Linked DNA regions of Homo sapiens: region 2 is linked to region 1. Evidence: fine-mapped expression QTL. A gene starts in region 1. The other region holds a variant in brackets. All regions are shown on one strand. Distances are between the middles of the regions.

The links. PIP is the estimated chance that this variant, and not a neighbour inherited with it, causes the effect.
Region 2: its variant is the best candidate, but not a certain one, in a credible set for the expression of ZNF334 in ileum (GTEx, PIP 0.89).

What each region holds. Positions count from the first base shown.
Region 1 is chr20:46,511,896-46,516,296 of GRCh38, forward strand. It overlaps ZNF334 (zinc finger protein 334), which reads right to left and starts at 1,664. Exons shown (of 5, transcript NM_001353824.2): 1 at 645-1,664; 2 at 187-245. The coding sequence starts at 207. RefSeq lists a silencer at 1,704-1,938.
Region 2 is chr20:46,587,279-46,591,679 of GRCh38, forward strand. It overlaps SLC13A3 (solute carrier family 13 member 3), which reads right to left. Exons shown (of 13, transcript NM_022829.6): 7 at 1,882-1,977; 8 at 781-885. Among named protein-coding and RNA genes, the nearest start is that of OCSTAMP, 39 kb to the left of the region's middle. RefSeq lists an enhancer at 1,706-1,795. The variant A/T (reference allele first, on the strand shown) is at 2,516.

The DNA of each region.
Region 1 (4,401 bases):
TTCTGGAACCATTTGAGTAACTCTATAGGAATATATGATTTCTGTATATCTATGTCCACTTTTCCAGTATTGATCGAATACTCTTCTCTGATGCTGAATTTTATACATTTCGTTTCATCTGCAAACTACTCTAAACCTCTTGAAATTCACTGTATAATGTGAGAAGTAAATCCCTGAGCAACTTACCTGAAATTTTTTCATTTTCATGTTCTCTTGAGAAAGGGCCAAGAGTGTTGAAAGCAGAGCTGGGTAAGGAAGAATGGCGAATGGAATCATGAGCGATTTGGCTCACACAGCAGCTCTACAATTACCTACAAAGCCACACACCCATTTAAAAACATGGCCCTTTGACCAGTCTGGTTCAGGAAGCAACATGTTGAGGAAACGTTCACTTGTCCATTTATAGTTCTAGAATGGTCTCATAGAGCTTTTCTTACTGAGTGAGTGTCAACAAATGTTTTCTACTGAATTACTGTCAATCTATGCCTCCTTTGAAAAAAATTGAAAACGTCTGAGTCCAATTAATAGGAGACTAGGTCAACGAAAGTTAGTATATACAAAGCCTGGAACACTATTTTGGCATTAAAATGGACTCTAGGATTAAAAGATTTCTTGGAATAGGAAAATGATATTATGTCACTTACCTGTTTTCCTACTAATGTGTTTAGCCACTTGAGATGACAGAATCCAGAGAGAATGAATGAAAGTGCTTTAAGGTGTTTGTCTTTTTGACAGTTTGGTTTCCCTTAGCTGCAGTTTCACAAGAGGACCTTTTACTAAGAAACTTCTTGTGGTAGGTAACGTAAATGTGGTAGATGACAAAAGCCCTGACCTGGTACTCAAAGGACCAGAATTCAGTTATTGGATCTGTCACTAGCAAACTGCATTACTGAAAAAAATATTTACTAAGTCGTAATTTTAATATAAGATAAATTGGTTTTTAGTCTTTCCTTTACCCCTATCGTGTAGCTCTGTAAGGGGTAAACTCAGTAAATCCCAGGTGAGGTGATGAACATGGTTGGTGCAGCTCTGAATAAACAGAGGGTGGAGATGGTAGGGAATGACATGTATGTGTTTAGGAAGTGATGAAGACATCATTTCCTTATTTATAACCAGTACTCCTTCCCTCCAACCCAGGACTCTCGCAGATACCTCCAGTGAAGTGTCTTTTCCTGTCAAATCTTGACCCTGCCCATTCCAGCTCACATCCTTCTTCCGAAAGTTGAACTGAACTTTGCTGAGCTATAATAATCAATGGCTGCAAGACTAAGTGCATCAGCAGAAGTTCTGGAAAGAGGTTCTAGCTACTTGGATGCGTAAACCTTTCACCTTCACCAAGCGCCTTCTTCGGGCAAATCAGGGCCCTAGAGAGAGCTCGCCCGTGGCCTGCAGGTCAGGAGCCCAATCCTGCCCTGGCTGCCTCGCCTCCCGACCACAGGAAACCCTCCCTCCAAAGACAGGGAGAGCGCGCGTCCACCCTCCGCAGACCCGAGGCCCGCTCCGCCCGGCCCCACCGTTCCCTCCGACGCCCGAGTGCTCAGAGCTCGCCGCCAGCCCTTCCTATAGGTTGTGGGTGCACCCGCTTCGCCTCCAGTTCGCACCAGGTCCAAGTCTCGGCGGGACCAGGGATTCACGGGCTGCAGGACCCTCACCCGGAAGAGCCTGGCGAACCGGAAGGGCGTCCAGGTAAAAAACAGGAACAGCACATGCGCAGAAAGGCCCCCGGGCCGCCTTTCCCGGGGCTCTCCCGGGCCCCCCGCCGGCTTTCCGGACCACAGTCCCCAGAAGGCGTCGCGGCCACCGCCCTACCCTGAGGGATCTTTGAGGAGCTTCTGCTTTAACTACAGAGTTTAGGTGACTGCTGTGAATCATCAATACGAAAAGTAAAGTTTCATATCCGTTTCACCGAAGTCTATAGATGAGAAAGGAAAATTCTGCGAAATGAAAATGACTGCTAAAGATATTCCAGCAGAATATAATACTAACGACCTGCAGAAAATTTCTCCCAAACAGGATACAAAATCATTGCTGGCTTTCAATACGTGAAGGTTGAAAATAAATCAGAATATCTCTGAAGAAAATGAACTATTAGCCGTAACCCCAATTCCCAGAGATATCCGAGTTTAACATTAGGTGCACATTCTTCTGACAGCTTTACAAAGAGGAACTCATATAGGTCTAGTAATTTGTTATTTTTTAAATTAGCAATATAGTTAATATACTTTAATACCACGAATTATCTCATATACATTGTGAGTAATATAGAAAATAGTTTTACATCCACAAGGAAAATACATACAATCATGCATGGTTTAACGATGGGGATACACTCTGAGAAATGTGTCTTTAGGCAATCTCGTCTTTGTGTGAACATCATGGAGGGTTCTTACACAAATCTAGACAATATAGTCTACTACACACCTAGGCTGTATGGTATAGCCTATTTCTCCTAGGCTACAGGCCTGTGTGGCATGTCACTGTCCTGAATACCATATGCAATGGTAACACAATGGTATTTGTGTATGTAAACATATCTAAACATAGGGAAGGTGCAGTAAACGTACAGTATTGTAATCTTATGAGACCACAGTTGTATATGCAGTACATCGTTGACTGGAACATTCTTATATTATGCATGACTGTATATGAATTGTATACATATTGAATAAATAGAACTTTATAAAACTTTACTCATTGGAAGGCATGAAAGTTTCTGACAAAGTTATAATGTATTATTATTCAATTCCAGAAAAGAACAATTAGCGACTGGTGGTAGCTAGTCTTCAAAGATGGCCCCCAATGAACTAAACTTCCCAGTATTCCAGGCTTGTATATTTCCCTCCCACGTTGACTTTGACTGACTCTGTGACTCTCTTTAACCAAAAGAATGCGTCAGAAGTCACACTGTGCCAGTTCCAGAAATAAGCCATACAAAGTCCTGGCAGCTTCAGCTTTGCCCTTTGAAGAGTCCTTAGACGCTGTGTAAGACATGCAGTTAACCTGTTAGACCAAGTGGAGAAACCAGGAGAAGTAGGAAGTGAGAGGCCCTGAGACCACATGGAAAAAGAGAGGCCCATCTTTCCTAGCAATGCAGCTATCCCAGCCTTCCAGTCATCCTTGCCTAGAGACATCAGACATATGAGTGAACATTCTAGGCCAGTGAAGTTCCTGGATGACTTCAGCTCCAGATGAAATCATATAGCTGATGCCAGTAAACATACAGACTACAAGAAATAATGAATTTTATTATTTTAAGCCTCTAAGTTTTGGGTGGTTTGTTACACAGCAATAGCTAGCTAAGCACCAACAAAAGATGATTTCCAAGAATATAATATGAAAAGCTGCCATTTCAAATCATTGAGAAAGGCTTATTGTTAAATAGATTATTGAAAAAGTGATGTGGGACAACTCACTAACCATTTGGAGTAAAAAACTAAGATTCCCATCTCACACATTATAATCAATATATTTCACATTGACATATAATTTGAAATGTTAAAAGCAAACTCACAGACTAAGTGATTTTTGCATTACTTGCTAGGGAAGCTCTTTTACTGAAATTTATTAAAGCAAAGTTTCCTAGTCATCAAGAAAATTGAATATATTTCTATTCATTCAAGTTTAGATAGTCTCAAATGTTTTGCTACTTTTGTAATTGGGAACATTTTTCTATCTTATTTTCATTGCCATGTAAAAGTGACACTGTAGAGAAAAGTATTGATCAATTTGGCTATGAAAAATTGAAAAAATCTTGCTTCAGAAAAAAATAGATTTAAAAAGAAATAAATGGAGAAAATAAAGTGGTTTCATATATATGAGAAGGATTGGAAATAGACTCAATTTATTAACAGCTCTTAGAAATCAGTAAAGATGAGGATTCAAATTTGTTTAAAAAATGAAAAAAGAACATGAATAAGACAATTAATATAGAAGAATTGTAAAAGAGCCATAACTATACATATGAGGTAATGGCCAATAATACTCTAGAGCAAAGAAATGCAAAAAGTTTTTGATTACGTACTTTTTTGGCAGACTAATTTGGCAAAGATTAAACGGAATAATAAAGTATTGGCATGAATTTGGAAAAAATATTTGTTCCCAGACAGGTTGGGTGGGAGTATAATTCCTATGACATTTCTAGTAGACATTCTGTACCAAAATTGAAGATTGCATGTCCTTTATTCCAGCAACTCAGCTTCTAGGAACATCTTAATCAAATAATTAAATCAGTACAAAAAGATGCATATCAAGAATGTTCCTCGTAATGATTTTAATCATAATCTTTTTTTTTGTAGATGGAGTCTTGCTGCAATGCCCAGGCTGGAGTGCAATGGTGCAATCTTGGCTCACTGTAACCTCCACCTCCTGGGTTCAAGTGATTCTCCTGTCTCAGCCTCCCAA
Region 2 (4,401 bases), 75 kb after region 1:
AATATCATTTTACAGATTAGGAAACTGAGGCACAGAGAGGTTGAGTACCTTACAACCCTCCAATGGCTGCCCACTGCTCACAGAAAAAAAACAAACCAAAATGCATAACATGCCCGAAAAGACACTCTGATCTGGCCCTCCCCTACCTTTCCTCACCCGCTTTCCTTCCTTCCCACCAGGCCTCGCTCCCACTGGGCTTTTCTCATTTTCTCAAACATGCTACGTTTGTTCTGACTCAGGCTTCAGTAGACATTCCCAGGGCATCTCCACTGCTTTCATCTGCAGTCTTCCTAAGCTTTGGCTCTTCCCAGAACTGTCCAAAGTCAATGCCCCTGCTCTATTATTTTATAGCATAACCCTCTCAGTCTTTCCTTCATAGCACTCATTGCAATGCAGTTGTTTTGTTGTCTAACTACTTGCTTTTGTCTGTGTCCCAGCATCCAGCATCCAGCTTAGCACATAATAGGTTCTCAATCAATGTTGATTGAATGAATGAACGATTTGCTCAGTCACACAGCTCGTAAGTGGCAGAGCTAGAATTCTAACCCAGTTTAGTCTGACTCCAAATCCAGAGCTCCCAACACATGAGAAGTCATATTTTATCACCCAAACCTAAACTCTTTTGAGAGTGAAAGAGGGACCTATTAATAATCATATGGGACAAAAGATGGAAACTTGGATGCGTGTCTCCCCAGCTGCACTGCCGCCTCTCCAGCTCCAGGTGGCCCAGCCCAGAATCCTCCCTGTTGGACTCCTCCCTGTGGGTCCCCAGAGTCTCACCCAGGATTGAAGAGGCTGGCCCAGCCAGGGATGAACTTCGGGTCCCGGGTGAAGAGGAGGATGGCAAACATGCAGAAAAGGATGAAAACAGCCTGTTCGGCAAACCTGTGGCACAGACATGCAGGCATGATGGTGACCCCGGGTTTCAGGCAGACCGCAGCAGGCACAGGCTCAGGCAGCTGCCCACTGGGAGTGACTGGGCCCGGGCTCTGCCTCTGAGAAAGCTGAAGTCATCCACTCCCCAGGGAGTGCCCAGAGTGAGGGGAGGGGTGCCAATGGACTGTAAATGATTCCTGTCCTAGGACTTCCACGATCCCTCAGGATCCTTCCTGAGCCTCAAGCCACCCCCTCCCCGAAATCGCGTGTTTCATTATCACCAGGAGTTTACCAGGGTCCTACGGAAAATCAAGAAAGTGAGAAACAGAGACAGAGTCCGAAAAGCAGAGAGGAAGAGAAACAGACAGAAATGCAGTAGGCAAAGAGAAAGAGGAGCATTCATACAGAGAGAGAGAGAGACAGAAAAACACACAGTCTGTCTACACCGAAAGGAGAAGACACAGAGAGGGGACAGACCTGGAGAGAGGGTGGATGAAGGTGGAAAGAGAGGATCCCCAAGAGTTGGAGGAGACAGTTACCCAATGTACCCATTTCACAGACTGGAGAGCAGGGCCCAGAGAGGGTTAGTGCCATGACCAAAGCCACACAGGACATGAGTGGCACAGCTGGTCCTTGAACACAGGCCTACTGAACCCGTTATTTTCACCATATGGAAATGTGCATTAAACAAGGTCCCGGAAGTCACCTGAGATAGTGTCAGGTATTCTGCGTACCGGGAGGGAAACGGTGCCTTGGGTGGAAGGTAGCAGATCCCACTGTAAGTACACTCTGAGGGGCTTTTTGGTCCTCAGGTTTCTACCCCAGCACCACGGCAAGAGGTTGACTGTGTAAACCACCTCCCATCCTCCATCTCTAGGCTCCCACGCCACGGGTCCTGGAATTCCCCTGGAGCTCAGCCCCCATGGGCCCAAGGCCAGGCCAGGAGGAAGCTCTCCTGAGCGTTTAATACTCAGCTCTTTCCTTAACCCAAGGGCCCCCACATACTTGATGGGCCCCAGGTTCTGGTATTCTTCCCGAATTACAGCTCGAGCCCTATCTTCTGCATTGGTTCTTATCTCAGATTTATTCTTCCTCCAGCCCCTGAAACAGAAAGTGGGAGATTAGGAGTGGCCACTGCAGGTATAACTAACTTCTCACCTACAACAAGCACCACCACCTGACCAAGCCACATCCTCTCTGTCCGGGAGGCTGCAACTGCCTGATAGCTTGTCTCCCTGCAACTGTCTTCCTTTGCTACAGTTGTTCTCCCCACGTATAGCCTGGTTGATCTTTGAAAATGTGAATCTGATGATATGACTTCCAGGCTTAAAATCCATGAGTGGGTCAAACAGGCACATGAATAAACACAGGAATCAATGGAACAAAACAGAAAGTCTAGACACAGACTCAATCACAAATGGGAATTTAGTCTATAATAAAATTGCTATCTCAGATTGGTGTGGAAAAGATGGGCTATTCAGTAAATGGTATCAGACATATAGATCAATGGAACAGAGTTGAGAGCCCAGAAATAAACCCATCCATCTATGGCCAGTTGATTTTTGACAGGCGTACCAAGACTGAATAGTGGGGGAAGGAATAGCCTTTCAACAAATGGTGCTAGGAAAACTGGACAGCC[A/T]TGTGGAAAAGAATGAATCTGGACCCCTACCTCACACCAAATACAAAATTAAACCCAAAATGGATTGAAGACCTAAATGTTAGAGCTAAAGCCATAACACTCTCAGAAGAAAAGGCAGGGGTAAATTTTCATGTGCCTTGGAATAATATGGTTAGAGTTAAAACCATAAACCTCTCAGAAGAAAGGGCAGTGGTAAATTTTCATGCCCTTGGAATAGGCAACAGTTTCTTCAATATTACGTCAAAAACACAAGCCATCAAAGATAGATAAATTTGACTTCATCAAAATAGTAAAATGTTGTGTGTCCATAAATGGTGTTAGGACACTGGGTGACCATTTGGGACAAAAAAAAGTGAAGTTGAATCCAAACTTCACACTGTACCATAAGGATGAACTCCAAATAGATTAGAGGTTTAAATGTAAAAAAAAATAATAATACTAGAAGAAAACATATGATTATTCTTTTATAAGTCCTGTATTAGGAAAACCTTTCTAAACTGTAACTGAAATTTCAGAAACCATATGAGAAAAGATTGAAAAAAAAATTAAAACAATTCTGCAGGGAGAAAAGCACCATAAGCAAAGCCAAAAGACAAATCAGGAAAAAAAATGTAGCTTCTATTGTAGAATAAGCACTCATCTTTCTAAAATATAAAGCATACCAGAAACTAGTAAGAACAAGACCAAAAACCCATTTGAAAAAAATGTATAAAAATATGAACACACAGTTTCACAATTCACAGGAAAGAAAATACCTATGAACAAACTTTTCATATGCTTCCAAACCTATGAAAAGTTGCCCAAAATTACTGTTCATAAAATAAACACAAGTTATTTTTCTCTTATCAGATTGGCAAAAATCCACTTTGCTGCAAGGAAGCAGACACTCTCATACATTGTTCATGGGAGAGGAAACATGTACGATTTTTATGAAGAATGATTTGATAATATCTATTAAAATAAAAATGTGTTTATTCTCTGATCCAGAAATCCCACTTCTGGAAATGTATCTTATAAAAATGCTTGCTTCCTTTGAGCTACAGCTGCAAGGTAAAAGAGAAAAAAATAATAAAATAAAAATTAAAAAACAGCTGGGCTTGGGTGGCTCATGCCTGTAATCCCAGCTGTTTGGGGGGCCGAGGTGGGTGGATCACTTGAGGTTTGAGACCAGCCTGGCCAACAGAGTAAACCCCTCTCTCTACCAAAAAAAAAAAAAGGCACAAAAAATTAGCTGGGCAAGGTGGCAAGAGCCTGTAGTCCCAGCTACTCTGGAGGCTGAGGCAGGAGAATGGCCTGAACCTGGGAGGTGGAGGTTGCACTCCGACATGGTGCCACTGCACTCCAGCCTGGGTGACAGAATGAGACTTTGTCTAAATAAATAAATAAATAAATAAATAAATAAACAAACAAACAAAAATCTGTCACGGAGGCCAGTCACTAGAAAAAGATATCTATGTCTGCTCATATTTGCTTAAGAAAACTCTGGAAGGTTACACAAGAAACCAATAAAAGTGGATGCTTGTTTGGGAGGATATCGTGGCAGAAGAGGCCCATGGTTGGGAAGAGGGGTTCTCACTGCATACCTCTTAGCGCTGTTTTGATTTTTGAGAAGCATATGTATGTATTGCCTATCCAAATTAAGGTAGCCATATTAAAAAGTAATTGAAGTAAGCAAAATAAATATAGGAAAACAAAGTGCCAGTATTATATTTTGGCTAGTTATCATTTCTGGCTCAAGTCTCTGGGTCTGAAGCTTGCTCTTTCTTCGTTTAGAGGTTGATTTGGAAATGTTAGATATTAAGGTTTCTTTAGCACCCAACTGAGACTTTCTCCTCAACGTAAGTAGACTGAGTGATGAGAGTTGATAAAGACATATTTCCCATAAT